Linked DNA regions of Homo sapiens: region 1 is linked to region 2. Evidence: fine-mapped expression QTL. Tissue or cell type: left ventricle. Region 2 holds a variant in brackets; the other region holds the start of a gene. All regions are shown on one strand. Distances are from middle to middle.

Region 1 (7,548 bases), 99 kb before region 2:
ATTTACATAACATTCTTGAAATGACAAAGTTCTGGAGATGAAGAACAGATCAGTAGCTGCCGGGGGCTATGGAGGGAGGGGCGGTACACAGGGCAGCACGTGAGGCCCCAGGGATTGGGGTATCTTGACCGCATCCTGGCAGATGTCTTGGCTGTGACACTGCACTATCGTTTTGCAGATGCTTCCACTGGGGAAAGCTGGGTAGAGGGTACACGGGCTCTCTGCATTACTGATGACAACTGCATGTGATTTACATGACCCCAAAATAAAATATTTAATTAAAAGAAACTGAGTTGGGCCCAGTGAACTCAACCAGTCCCTTTCAGCTCTAAAACTATGTTTTCTGGGTCAGGGGAGGAAACAGGAGGTACAGGAACACTAGAGGGGAGAAAGCACGGAGAGATGGGAAAAGCACGGAGAGAGAGATGGGGAAAGGGCAATCAAGAAGACTGAGAGAAAAGGGGGGAAGCAGAATGACAGAGGAGGTGTGAAGAGAGAGAAGCCCTCTGGAGTGCTGAAATACTGAATATTCTCCCCTGGGAGCTACTCAGGGTAAGAATTTCTCCAGGGACTGCTCTTTCGGGCAAGCACAATTACACACATTTCTATGTTATGTTAAGTAAAAATCTAGTAAATGGGCTGGGCACGGTGGCTCACACCTGTAACCCCAGCACTTTGGGAGGCCGAGGCGGGCAGATCATGAGGTCAGGAGATCGAGACCATCCTGGCCAATGTGGTGAAACCCCGTCTCTACTAAAAATACAAAAATTAGCTGGACGTGGTGAGGGGCGCCTGTAATCCCAGCTACTCGGGAGGCTGAGGCAGGAGAATCACTAGAACCAGGGAGTCAGAGGTTGCAGCAAGCCGAGATCGCGCCACTGCACTCCAGCCTGGCGACAGGGCAAGACTCCGTCTCGAAAAAAAAAAAAAATTCTAGTAAATGAAGCGAGTGATCAGGACAAAACTAGCCTCTCATCAATAAATCAACCAATAGCGCTTATCAAGTATTCATATGTCTGCCTCTTCTTCTAGACTACACTAGGGGCTGGTTAACGCTCCTATGTGCAACAGAACCTCAAACACATCGTAACACACCTTTGGAGAATCCTTACAAGAACACCAACTTAACAGTTCTCTCTGACCACACTACCTCAGCAAAAAACCAGGAAGAAAAAAATATTCTTCAACCCTTTTCAGGGACAGAAAGCATCATTTCAAAAGTCCAAGAAGGGAAGGTAAGAATTTCAAAAGTGAAAGTTATCATGAAAGGCTATAAAAGCTGGAGATGAGTCTGAAAAACAAATGGAAAATGAGTCACTTCAGGGCCTCTCCCAGCCTCAAAGCCAATTAATTATTACATTAGTCAGAGTAATTTTAAGCCTTCCAATCCACTCACCCTAGCCACAGGCAACAGTAGCCTCTCCAAGTGTTAAGGGTTTTTTTTCCCAAGCCTGCAGGCGGATGAGCTTTTTACATGGCAGCCCCTTAGGATTGGATGTGGACCTGCCCTGTCTTTCACCAAGAAGCAAGCACTGCGCAGATCACTGAATCATAAAAACCACCTGCTCTTACCAGCCTCCTCTTCCTCTACAGCAAAACTTCTGACCTGAGACATGGAAGCAGATAAAAAGCCACTACACAAAATGTATCGCTACAACTAGAGGGCAGTTTTGCCTTTCTTCCATTCAATTATTCAGTTTCTCATGTTCCTAAGTGCCAGCCCAGAACCATGGAATGTGAAGAAACACAAAACTCACTCCTCTGCATCAGTGAATTGATTGTGTGGTGGGGATGTAAGTCTGCATATGACCGGCAGGTCCCCAAAGTGGTGCCAAGTCAATCTAAACTAGAGAGAATTTTTCTGGCCAGGCCAAGCAGAGATTTCATGGATGAAGTCTCCCAAAGACTGATTTCCTAAACATTAAACATCACTGGTTTTCCAAAACTGGTTTTCTTTTTTTTTTTTTTTAACCCTGTTGCTCGGGCTGGAGGGCAAGTGGTGCCATCTCCACTCACTGCAGCCTCGACCTCCCAGGCTCCACTGATCTTCCCACCTCAGCCTCCTGAGTAGCTGGGACTACAGGTGTGCACCGTCACGACTTGCTAATTTTTGTATTTTTTTGTAGAGACGGGGTTTTGCTGTGTTGCTCAGGCTGGTCACTCGATCTGCCCACCTGGGCCTCGCAGAGTGCTGGGGTTACAGGTATGAGCCACCACGCCCAGCCCACTGGTTTCCTTTACACCCGTTTTGTTCCCCAGCAGTCCTTATGAGGGCACCTGAAATAAGGAACCTCCTCCCCGACTTGAGAGCAGCAAAGCCTTCAGAGGGAACTAAGTTATTAAAACCCACCCCACACAAAATGCTTCTAAACGCCTTGGCTGACTTAATCCTTGCAGTGTGCTGAGGTTAAGTATGATTATCCATCTCCTGTGAACAGGAAGACTGAGGCTCAGAGCTTAAGTGATTTGCCCACGGTTCACTGCAGGGGATAAAACTCGGCTGTCCCTGGCAGGTCCCAAAGTCACGGCCTTCAGGCTCCCACACCATGCTGCCTCCCTCACCGGGGCTCCACACTCTCAGCCTGGAAAACACGAATTTTAAGAAAACCATGACTTACGAAAAGCAGCCAATCCCAGCATTGGAACCAACAGGGCATAATTCCACCTGCTTCCATCACCACCATCCGCCCTGGAATTAGGCCGGATATTCCAATTTGGGGGATCATTTAGGTTATTCATGGAGATATACCTTGAAGTAAAGAATAAAAACGTTAACTACTTTTATTCAAGAAATTTTTCTTCAGTTTTAACTATGTGCTTGCTGCACAGCACTGAGGCCCTACGGGATTCAAAGAAGAAAAAAACTAGACCAGAGCCGGGCATGGTGGCGGGCACCTGTAGTCCCAGCTACTCGGGAGGCTGAGGCAGGAGAATCGCTTGAACCTGGGAGGTGGAGGTTGCAGTGAGTCGAGGTCGCGCCACTGCACTCCAGCCTGGTGACAGAACGAGACTCCGTCCCCCCCAAAAAAAAAGAAAAAGAAAAAGGAAAAAAAAAACAAGAACTTAAGATGAAAGCGACTCACAATCTGGTTGGGGAAAGTGGAGAAAACAGACATGTCTTAAGCATCTGAAGTGCAGGTAGAATCAGGTAAGTTCTCTGGTACAAATATGTTTAAATGTATGGCTGCTGCGATGGTTAATTTTGTTTGTCAACTTGACGGCATCATGAGGTGCTCAGATACATGGTTAAGCATTATTTCTGGGCGTGTCTGTAAGGGTGTTTTTGGATGAGATTAGCAATTGAACCTTTAAACCAATTCCTCACGTCTCCCTTCTATTTGTTGTGTCTCTGGAGAACCCTCATACAGTTGTATCAAAGATACAGAATCAACTCGATAAAAGTGGGCTCACACCGGACACTTTCATATGAGCTAGGGTTTGAAGAGTGAGCAGCATTTTGACAGGCAGAGAAAGAAGGAAAGGGTCTTCTGATCAGAAGGAAGACTGTGAGGAAGGCAGGGAGGGGTGATGTGGGGAAGGTGCAAACAGTGCTAGAAGCTTCTGAGGCCTCCTCGTGGTGGTGATGAATGCAGAGATTACAGAGTTCTCTGCTTCGGGCTCAGCATGCACCCTCCATAGCTAGGCTGGGGGCTAACGTTAGTAAGAATTTACTGATTTACTGAGTACCTACACGAAGTTTCACATTTTCACAAAGTAGAGTCACTTTAAGTTTGTTTACATGTGACCTCCACAAACACACACAATTACAAAATAGTTTAGTTAATCAAGGGATGTATAATAAACAAGAGGTCGGAGGCCCCGGGCCGCTCCCGCCCACCTCCGCGGACGAGCGCCCCCCTCCGACCCCATTCCCTGCGGTCTGGGCGTTCAGGCCCTTCGGTCTGGGCGATCCCGGAGAACCACCCACGGGGCTTTAAAAATGTTGGTGCCCACCACCTCCCCGGAACAGGGCCCGCTCTACCTCGGTCGGGGAGCGCGGGACCTCAGCGTTCCCTTAACGCCACCGTCCGCGGGTCCGCTTTGCGCAGGCGCGGCGCCCCCACTCAGTACCCGCTCCGGGCGTGGCATGGTGCGCAGGCGCGATGTCCCCCACTGCAGCCCCGCTCGACTCCGGCGTGGTGCGCAGGCGCGGTATCCCCCCTCCCCCGCCAGCTCGACCCCGGTGTGGTGCGCAGGCGCAGTCTGCGCAGGGACTGGCGGGACTGCGCGGCGGCAACAGCAGACATGTCGGGGGTCCGGGGCCTGTCGCGGCTGCTGAGCGCTCGGCGCCTGGCGCTGGCCAAGGCGGTGAGTCCGTGCCGCGGACCGGGGCGGGGCAGGCGGGGGCCGAGGCGGCGGTAGGAGCGGGACGGTCCCCAGCGGGTCCGAGCGGAGCGGGCGCCGGGTCCCTGCGCCCTCTGTCCCGGGATCGGGAAGGGGCTGAGAGAGCCCTGGGCCGGTGCGAGGGGAAGCCGCGGGGCGGACTCGGGGACCCGGGGAGCTCGGTCCTTAGTAGATAGTCCGCGTCCGGGTGAAGGTCACAACCCCGCGGGCTTGCTGGGCGTCCCCTCCGCCGCCTTGGTCCGGGCCTGGGGTCCTGGGACCCCGCGGGCTGAGGTAGCCCCTCGCCTCAGTGCCTGGCAGGTGGACTCGGGGAGGAGTCGTGTCTGCCCAAGGTCACCCGGGCGGATAGCGGCCGGTGGCCGCCCTGGCTGGGCTGGGCCTCTGCCGCCCTCTGTGCGGGTTGTCCTGAGGAGCAGCCCGCAGCCCGTGGGTGGGGCCGGCGGGGCGGGTGAGACCGCCCGGGTGGGTGCGAGGAGTGGCCGGGCTCGGCCCGGTGGGCGTCCGGTGGGAAGCGTGGCGCGCCCGAGCTTAGGCTTGCAGTTCGCCTTTCCAGAAAGCGCAAATCTGTCCATGTCCACTTCGAGACCTTGTAAGTTAAGGGCTTCTACTTTGGGTCGTGTTTGGTGGTCCTTATGCCACCAAAAATGTGCCAGTGTTTAAAAGCAGCTGTGCCAGTTTTTAAAACTCAGGCGGAGAGCTCAGCGCACTGACCGGGCGAGGACGCCGGGACCTGTGCTTGCCTGTGCGCTGAGTGCCTCTAGGGCCGGGCTCGGCTTAGTCCAGGATGGTGGTCAGGGTTATACTTCCCTGAGCCCTTGCTCTCTGAGTGTCTGAATGTGCCCTCTACGATTGCATCTTAAGAATCGGCCTTCTAGGGTTTTATTTAATCAAGCTAAATTGGATAGGTTTAGTTGTTTGGTTCTTTTAAATGAACTTACCCACCCACCTCCTTAATTACAAAGTAATTTTAAATTGCAGAATAAAAATCTCAATAGGAACCAAGGCATTCAGCAATATTGATTTGAATTATGCCTGTAATTGTGCAATTTTCTCCTTTTTGAAATACTTATTAAAAATCTCGTTGAGTTAAATGTGAGGATTAGTCATACAGCCATCCTGCCAACATCAGAAAGCGTGTAAACCGTTCTAGTGTGTTGCTGTGGTTGGTACTGACTGAGCAGAGACCCCTGCCGCATCTTGGGCTTTTAAGAGCTGCTAGGAGGGCGTCCACAAGCAGGAAGGAAAGCCCATGGTCAGTGGGGCTTTTTAGGGGAAATGGTAGCTTGTGATTGGAGAAAAGCTAGAGCTAGTGCCTTTGTCCTCAACCCAGATGGTGCCCGGTGTTCCTTCTGCAGACTAAGACCCTGCCAGCGGCGGAGGCACCTCAGACGGGATGGCAAGATAGCAAAATTGAACCAAAATTTAGTCTTGGGTTTTGTAAAAGTCTTTTTATCTTGATGAAGTTAGCTTTTCCTACAGAAATTCTGCCTGCAAGCAGCATATTTATCGGCATTTCAGATAGGCTTTTTTTCCTGAAGAATTGGAGTTTACGAAGGAACAGCATAATCAAAAAATTAGCAGAAAAAAGAAAGAAATTCGTGATAGCCAACTGAGAAATGTGTTTGGAAAATAGATGCTGAGGATAATTTCAGTAAAGTCCAGAGAGAATTTTTTAACCTCATTTTGGCCAGTTCTGTGGTGTTTTGATCATTCTGTATTTACAACTGCTTTCAAGTGACGAACTTATCAGACTTATTTTGCTTTTGGTTTCTTTTTATGGCCCAGTGCACTGACACAGCTTGCAAACTGTTCGAAAGCAGTTTAATCAGAGGAAAAAGAAAACCAAGAAACTTCAATAGTTACTGGTTAACTGCTTACTTCAGGTGAAGTTTTTCAAATCCCTTAACATGAACATCCAATATATTGTTCTAGGACAAATTGATTTCTTTTCTTTGAATGGATTGTTCTGAATATGTTTAATGGTGTTCTAGAAATACATTATTTAGGCCATTATAGTAGTAAACCTTTGCTTTGCTTCTTGGGATAATTGTAACAACAATGGCATTCCATTCTGCATTCCTCATGATGTTTTTCCTGATTTATTTGAAAAATTGTGACTTGTTTTTTGATATGAAACCTGGATATTAATATTAGTTGGGAGTCTCAGAGATTTTTCCCAAGGGTCTTTAGATAGGGGGGCAAGTCCAGGATCCAGAGCCAGGCCGGCCGACTTGAATCCTCTCTGAGCTCCGTCTTTCCGTGGGGTTAGTGAGGATTCTGTGGGTAATGTTTGAAACCTTTGGTGATGCTCTTGAGAACCAGGGCTCACAGCCTATGCACAGTAACCATGTGTGAACTGAATTTTTTTTTTTTTTTGAGACAGAGTCTCACTCTGTCACCCAGGCTGGAGTGCAGTGGCGCAATCTCGGCTCACTGCAAGCTCTGCCTCCCGAGTTCACGCCATTCTCCTGCCTCAGCCTCCTGAGTAGCTGGGACTACAGGCACCTGCCATCATGCCCGGCTAATTTTTTTGTGTTTTTAGTAGAGACGGGGTTTCACCATGTTAGCCAGAATGGTCTCCATCTCCTGACCTCGTGATCCGCCCGCCTCGGTCTCCCAAAGGGCTGGGATTACAGGTGTGAGCCACCACGCCCGGCCGAACTGTATTTTAAGTATCCCTGTTTTTAAAATAATAAACACTAAAATTCTAGTGAGAATAATTACACGCAGTTGTAAAAGAATCAATGAGTATACCCTCCCTCACCCAGTTCATTTTCCATGAAAGCAATTCCTGTTTCTGATACTGACTCCTGGCATTTGTAATACCTCTGTTTCTTTAGCGGATATGCAGGTGCATTTTTATCAGTTTTAGACTTCTTGCCTAGAGAGGGGATTTAGTTCACTTAAACTACCCTGCTTCCGCTTCTTCCTGATACAGTCGTGCGTTTTTAGGTTCTTCGTTGGCTGCTTTTGTGATTGTGTAGGTTGTACATGCAGATTAGTTTCTTGCTCGTGATTTATAGGTGCGTTGTATTAGATGAGGACCCCTTACTTTGCTAGATTTCGGATATGAATGTCTCTGCACTTCTTACTTTTCCCCTCCACCTCCTAATTCAGTCATCTGAAATTCTGTATTGTTAAGCAAGGTCTAAGTATTCCTTTTAGTTATATGTTCCCCATTTTTTTTCTTGAGGAAATGTTTGA
Region 2 (7,548 bases):
TTGGGTGAGGCCGTAGCCTCTGCCAAGTCAAGGAGCCCGGTGGTGGCTGTGGCATTCCTGCAGGGTTGTTTTTTTTTCTTTGAGATGGAGTCTCACTCTTGTCACCCCAGCTGGAATGTGGTGGTGTAAACAGCTCACTGCAGCCTTGACCCTGAGGCTCAAGCGATCCTTCTGCCTTGGCCTCCTGAGTAGCTGGGATCCCAGGCGAGAGTCACCACACCCTGTCCATGTTCCTGCAGGTCTTGATGTGCGAGGACGCTGTGTCTTCCCTGCCACATTTTCTTCTTCTTTCTTGAGACAGACCCTTGCTCCATCACCCAGGCCAGAGTGTGGTGGTGCGAACACGGCTCACTGCAGCCTCGACCCTCAGGCTCAAGCGATCCTCACGCCTCGGACCCCCAAAGTGCTGGGATCACAGGCGAGAGTCACCATGCTGGCCTGAATCTTCAGGGTATTTTACGGTTGAAGTGTCACTTACTTAACCATCCCTGTTTCAGGAGTGTAGGTGGTCACCCTGTCTCTGCCGCTGACCTGGCCTGGACCCTCGGCTGTGAGAGGGAGGGGTGGGCTGGGCTGGAGGAACCTGAAGCCCTCGTGATGTCACAAGCCCATCTGGCTGGGCATCCCCTGCGCTGCACATGCCCCAGGTGGCCCCCACAGCAGAGGCGAGCCACTGGAGGGTGGAGGGCTTCCACGGGACGGTCTTCAGGGGGAGAAGGAAGGGCCCAGGCCCCCAGGAGACTCAGGAGACCAGAGCCTGGGGTCAGGGGCTCAGCCAGGGGCTCAGCCAGGGCTGGATGTCCGGAGCCAGCCCCGCAGCCCTGTGTTCTTCGTTCTTCGCACTCCCACCGTCCGTGTGAACAGCTCCAGCCCCACCTGCGCCTCCCTGTGCTGGGCTCCATCAGGGAGCCCAGAAGACGTGTGTGCTTCTGAAATTGGGTCCCTACATGCCTTTGTCCCAGTGCACCTTGCTCCTTCCATTTACTATCGAGATTTAAATGCCTGTTTTCTCCCCAGAGGTTGACGGATATATTCAGACGTTACGACACGGATCAGGACGGCTGGATTCAGGTGTCGTACGAACAGTACCTGTCCATGGTCTTCAGTATCGTATGACCCTGGCCTCTCGTGAAGAGCAGCACAACATGGAAAGAGCCAAAATGTCACAGTTCCTATCTGTGAGGGAATGGAGCACAGGTGCAGTTAGATGCTGTTCTTCCTTTAGATTTTGTCACGTGGGGACCCAGCTGTACATATGTGGATAAGCTGATTAATGGTTTTGCAACTGTAATAGTAGCTGTATCGTTCTAATGCAGACATTGGATTTGGTGACTGTCTCATTGTGCCATGAGGTAAATGTAATGTTTCAGGCATTCTGCTTGCAAAAAAATCTATCATGTGCTTTTCTAGATGTCTCTGGTTCTATAGTGCAAATGCTTTTATTAGCCAATAGGAATTTTAAAATAACATGGAACTTACACAAAAGGCTTTTCATGTGCCTTACTTTTTTAAAAAGGAGTTTATTGTATTCATTGGAATATGTGACGTAAGCAATAAAGGGAATGTTAGACGTGTGGTCTGCCTTCAGCTTTTCAAATCAAATAGGTCCAAGAACCAGGCCCCGTGCCCTGGTCCTCCAGACAGTCAGTGTCAGATGTTCTGGCTTGCCTGGGACCTCCCAGGGTACCGGGCACCTTCTGGAACATTGTCCAGCCCAGCGTGCACAGCTCTGCTTGTGAAAATCCAGAGGGACTGTCTCACCCTCTGTTCAGGAGGTTAAATTTCATAAGACTGCTCCTTTTGGATGAAGAAATCCAATTTGGTATAGCAGGTTGTGCATTTCCATCATTAATGATTTAGCCATGCTGTGCCCTGCAGTCTCTGCACGTGGCCTGCAGCGTTTGTCCACCCAGCGCATCCTGCTCACCTCGGTCCACTGCCAGCGCTGCCCGGTCCGCCTCCCTGCCTCACTGTGCAGCGCCGGCCCTCCTGGGTTGACACTCCCGAGGCCCAGCCTCATTCTCCAGACGCTTCCCTTCCACAGTGATGCGTCTGGTTTTGGGGCTGCAGCCTCTGGTCTCAGAAAGCCTGCTCCTTCCACCCAGTTGTGCACGACTTTTCTCTGTTCGTTTTGGTCTCTTGGGATCTGTTCAAACCTCTGCTCGGTGTGTTGAGGGGTGAGGGGCAGGGAGCATGGTTTCCTGGAAAAAGCCCCCAGTCTCTTAAGCTGGGCAGGTGTGCTGTGGGGGGTGGGGACTGGGGCTGCTTCTGTGCTCCAGATGAGACCTCCCCCACTGCCCAACTGCACTTGGCCTGGGGCCCTCTGGATACGAATCCCTCTGGAGCAGGCACTCCAGGCTCCCTGGGGATGGGAGGGGGAGGGATGTGGGCTTGGGGGTCTGGCTGCTCCCTCATGACCTCAGTCATGGGGATCCCAGGGCAGTCTCTGAGGATCCCCAGCAATCCACGCCGGGTGCCTCCCTAGACCTTGACACCCCCATGACTCTGCAGCAGATGACCCCAAGTTCTACTCCATGAGGTCAACTTCCTTGTCCAGGCCGCAAGCTCCCAATTCCATGAGGCCTTCCTCACCCAGGCCTCCACGGCCAGGCGCCCAGCGACTTCTCCCTCGCCTCATGGGCACCTGGACTCAGTGTCCAGTAGCTGCACCCACCCCACCCTGGGAGCTGCCCTCACTCCTCCTTCAGCCTTAGGCCTGTGAGGTCTCTGTGCTTGGGGTGAGGGCAGCTGCTGCGGCCACCCTGCAGCCCTCCCAGCCACGTCTCCAGGCCCTTGCCCGTGCTGTCCCCTGTGCAGTGGGCAACCCCCACCCCACACCTGCAGCTTCTCTGGCCTCTGGATTCCTACCTGGGTCAGGGAAGCCTGCTACTCTGGAGGAGCTGTCAGCCCTGGTGAGACACCTGCCCCCAGCACATGTCTCCATGGATGATACGGGCCAACAGTTGATACCAAGGCCGATGTGCTCATCCTGTGGATCAGCTGCCGGGGAAGGAATGTTGTGTGTGGCGGTTAGCTCCATACTCCTAGAAAGCAGGCGAAGGCCAGGTGAGACGGAGACTTTCATAGAGAAAAGGTCAGATTGTGGATGATTTTCCTTCCTTCCTTTTCACAGCAATGAGAGGTTCCTCTGATGGAGATAAAGTGTGTTTCTCAGGTCTCTGGTATGCTCAGGTGTGGCAGGTTCACAGGTGTGAGGTACACTCAGGTGTGTGGTGCAGGTACCCTCAGGTACTCTGCACGTGGCTGCCATGGGGGCTCCTGTTTGCAGGCAGCTCGGGGAGGCTGCCTTGGAGAGGGGCCTCCATGAAGACTCACAAGAACAAAAGCCGCTGAAAATTCCAGAGCAGAAGTTCTTCAGCAGAGGGTGAGGAGGGCGGTGGGGCCGCTGCACCACACGCTTGGAGGACCAGCAGGGGTAGAGCGCTGGACAAACGCATGTCAGGCCGGCCTGCTGGCAAAGGAACCCCTGGATGCAGAGAGCCTGTTGGGCTGGTGGGCTGTGGCTGTTGGGAGGGACATTTCCCCGGGGAGCTCCCAGCCATCAGAAGTCAAGGGAGGGAGGCGGTGAGGAGCCTCTCGAAGCAGAAGGTGTGGAGGGGGGACTCCCCTGCTCTCCTGGCCGGAGTCACTGATACAAAACTGGGGGTCCCTGGAGGGCAGTGAGCTCACGAGTTGTGGTGGATTCCTTGTGGAGGGGGTGCCAACCCGCAGGGAAGCAGGGCTGCCGTGCCCCCTGCCCAGCCACACTGCCAGCACAGACCCCATCCTCAGGCGCCTGCAGGGAGGCCACCCACGCCTTCCTGGGTGAGGGAAGCCCCTGAGCTAAACCTCACTGCACTCTGAGGCCCCAAGGGCCAGGCAGCTGCACACAGCCTGGGCCACGTGGGGGCAGTGCGGCTGCACCACGGAGCTCTCGGGAGCTGCTGACTGACCGGGAGGACCTGCCCGACACAGCCATGGGATTTATAGCCGCAGAGAGAAGACTACAGAGAGACGGGCCTTCGCCCTTTCAGCTCTCCCTTGTCAGGCAGGCTGTGCCCTGTGACCCTTCAGAGCCTGGGTTTGGGGGTGGAGGGGGTGGACAGCTGACCA[G/T]GTGCCTGGCGCAGGCCCAGTGTGGTGAGGCTGGGTCGCGGAGGCCAGGCCAGGCCAGCGGCCACGACCACCCACCAGGGACCCTCAGCGTCACGACCCCGGTCCCAAGACCCAAGACAGCAGGACATGGGGGCACAGCCATCTCTGGGGGCCTCTCCTTCCCCCCGCTCTGGGTCCTCAGTCATCAGTGCAGACATGGAGGTGCAGGTGCACGCCGTACACCCTCACCTGGGGCCCCTGGCCCATGCCTCCCCACCCTCCCTACCCTGATCTCCCCCCACAACCCTACACCTCCCCGGACAACCCTGCACCTCCCCCAACAGCCACCCTGCACCTCCCCGCCACAACCCTGCACCTCCCCCAACAACCCTTCAACTCCCCTCTCACCTTGCACCTGCCCCTCACCCTGCACCTCCCCCCATCCTGTACCTCCCCCCTTCACCCTCCACCTACTCCCAACCCTGCATCTCCCCCCAACCCTGCACCTCCCCACATCCTTCACCTCCCTCCTCACCTGGCACCTCCCCCCATCCTTTCCCTCCCCCAATCCTTCACCTCCCCCCTCCCTTCATCTCCCCCCTCACCCTCCACCTCCCCCCCGCACCCTGCACCTCCCACCCTTACCCTGCACCTCTCCCCATCTTTTACCTCCCTCCCACCCTGCATCTCCCCCCAACCCTGCACCTCCCCCCATCCTTTATTTCCCCCCACCCTGCATCTCCCCCCAACCCTGCACCTCCCCCCATCCTTTACCTCCCCCCACCCTGCATCTCCCCCCAACCCTGCACCTCCCCCAATCCTTCACCTCCCCCCTCACCCTCCACCTCCCCCCCTCACCCTGCGGCAAGCAGAGAGCTGACTCCAGCACAGTGAACTTGGAATGATGGAATGCACCCTGGAAGCAGCTCTGACGGGCGCCACCGTGACTGTGCCCAGCAGGGAGCTCCCTTGTGGTTTTTAACAAAAGACAAAATTCCCCAGGTCCTTCTCTGTGCTACAGGAGAAACTGGTGTGGGAGAGGGAACCCAGGCGTGACCAGGGAGAAACTGGTGTGGGAGAGAGAGGGAACCCAGGCGTGACCAGGGCTGCCCAAGCGGCTCCCTGTGAGGCATCAACGCTGGAGACACAGCAGTCATGGGGAACCCGGGGAACCCGGGAAACCCAGCCGCCATCAGAGAGCCAGAGAGCCGCAGGCGCCTGTGCGGGGTCCTGGCCTGGCCCGAGGGGTCAGCACACCCCTGTCTGCCTCTGAGGTCAGGGCCCTGGGGGCTCCTGACCTGGCCTGCCTGTGGGAGGCAAAGGTGTGGCCAGGAGAGGACAGGAGGGGGCAGTCACAGTCACCACTCCTGGAGGCCCATGAAGAGCAGCTTTGCCCCCACACTTCTGTGAAGCCAACTTGGGCCTGTTTGGGAGGGGCCTGGCGCTGCAGCCGGCCGTGGGCACCTGCCATGTGGCGGTCCACTGGAGGCCAAGTCCAGCTCATATGGCTCTGGGGACCCACCGCACCAGACTCCAGTGTGGGGGTACCCGGAGCTGGGGGTGGGTCCTCGGAGGCTTCCAGTCCTGCCCCAGCTGCCATCCCTGCCAGGTGTTAGCGCCTCTGGTTCAGAGTCCCGAGAGGACCAGTGGCCCAGGAGAAAGGGGTGTGTCTCCAGCTGCTGGGAGTGTGGGTGGGAGCCAGAGGGTTCAATGACACTGGGGACAGCAAGTCCGGACTGGAGGGAGGAGACCTCCTGAACAGGGTCCCCAGCACAGAGGCAGAAAGGAGACTCTGTGACTGGGGGTGTCAGCTGCATCTGGACCTTCGTGGTGGGGAGGGAGGCACGCCCAATAGCCCGTCTGAACGGGAGGTGGCTCAGGGATCCCCCATTGTGCTGGTGGGGTGCCCAGAGACTCCAGGACTCCACGTGGGGCTCTGCCTGCTAAACCCTGAGACTTTAGGGGCAGTGGCTCCCACGGCAGGGTCATCCTTTTTCTGCACAGTCCCACTGGCTGCCCCAGGTCCTGCAGAGACCTGAGACTTTGGGGACAAGCACAGGGGACAGGTGGGCGTGGATGGCCTGTGCCGGTCAAGGGCAGTGGGAAGGAAGGAGGAGCAGTTTCCTTCTGTACCCAGGAAATAGAGTAACAAAGTGTCTCATTCCAGTTGGTTCTGGTGGGACAGGGTAGGTGGAAGGGAACCCGTGCTTGCCCTGAGACATGGGGGTGCTGTCTTCCCATGCAGGGGGACTGCGGCTCACCACCATCACATTCTACCCACAGGTTCTTATTTTAACAGATCACAAAGGTACTATGTGCTTCTTGCAAAAATTTACAGGAATTGTAGACTTTTCAAAAAGTAAAAAGAAATTAAAGTTCACCTGTTACCTCAGAGTTATCCAGCTACACATTTTCTGTGCATAATTCACTTTACAAAAATTGGATCAAGATAAAACTAATGATTTTTAAAAATACAGCAATATAGTTGCACATTGTTCCATATCAAAAAATAAATGTGTGCACCCAGGGCTCCTGGCTGTCTCAGTGGCATAGTGGCTCATGCCTGTAATCCCAACACTTTGGCAAGCCGAGGTGGGTGGATCACCTGAGGTCAGGAGTTCGAGACCAGCCTGGCCAAGATGGCAAAACCACTATCTACTTAAAAAAAAAAAAAAATTAGCCAGGTGTGGTGGCGCGCGACTGTAATCCCAGCTACTTGGGAGGCTGAGGCACGAGAATCGCTTGAGCCCTGGAGGCAGAGGCTGCAGTGAACTGAGATCGCACCACTGCTCTCAGGCCTGGGTGACAAAGCAAGACTCTGTCCCAAAAAAGCCCATTTACTCAGCTCACATTTTTGAGCCTCTGCTATTCGACAGGAACCAGAGGTGAGCAGAGCCGACTTGGTGACCCCTGGGGACAGAGCGGCAGAACTCAGCAATTCTGGGCTGCCCTGCAGGAGCTACACCCGGGGAGGGGCGGTGGCCACTTGGGGGCAGGGTGGGCTTCTCAGCTGCGCCCACCCCACCTTGGGAGCTGTGTCTGGAAAAGAGACTTTTCCTGAGCCGACAGCAGACAGCGAGTGCAAAGGCCCCAAGGCCCGCACGCCTTATTCAGAGAACAGCAGGAGGCGCGGGGCGGGTTGGGGGCGTCAGGGAGACGGGGTTTGACTGAGAACCTGGGGGCGCCAGTGACAGCCTCGGCCGCGTTGCTGAAAACCGACCTTGCGGGATGAAGAGGGCGCGGTTCCCCCGGCTGGGATGAGGACCGCGGATGCTGAGGAGCGGACTCCAGGGACCACCGACTCCATGGCCGGCCCCAGCGAGGGCGAGAACGGGTGGAAGCCGGCCAGGGTCTGTGGAGACGTCAGGGTGCGAGGCCAGGCTGAGGTGTCCCCAGGGATCCCCTGAGGGTACAGGGAATTCAGCCAGGGCCTGCGCGCCCGGACGGAGGACTAGA

What was found. PIP is the estimated chance that this variant, and not a neighbour inherited with it, causes the effect.
Region 1: it holds the start of SDHA, and the variant in region 2 is fine-mapped to the expression of SDHA in left ventricle (GTEx, PIP above 0.99). The same link has a PIP of 0.9 or more in atrial appendage and tibial artery.

What each region holds. Positions count from the first base shown.
Region 1 is chr5:214,111-221,658 of GRCh38, forward strand. SDHA (succinate dehydrogenase complex flavoprotein subunit A) reads left to right here and starts at 4,210. Exons shown (of 15, transcript NM_004168.4): 1 at 4,210-4,308. The coding sequence starts at 4,246. It overlaps CCDC127 (coiled-coil domain containing 127), which reads right to left and starts at 4,043. Exons shown (of 3, transcript NM_145265.3): 1 at 3,983-4,043; 2 at 2,619-2,749. The coding sequence starts at 2,739. RefSeq lists silencers at 4,021-4,350, 4,581-4,820 and an enhancer at 4,220-5,028.
Region 2 is chr5:313,400-320,947 of GRCh38, forward strand. All of the region lies in intron 3 of PDCD6-AHRR (PDCD6-AHRR readthrough (NMD candidate)), which reads left to right. PDCD6 (programmed cell death 6) reads left to right here. Exons shown (of 6, transcript NM_013232.4): 6 at 1,018-1,575. The coding sequence ends at 1,116. Among named protein-coding and RNA genes, the nearest start is that of AHRR, 4.5 kb to the right of the region's middle. RefSeq lists an enhancer at 5,118-5,417 and a silencer at 7,527-7,548. The variant G/T (reference allele first, on the strand shown) is at 4,114.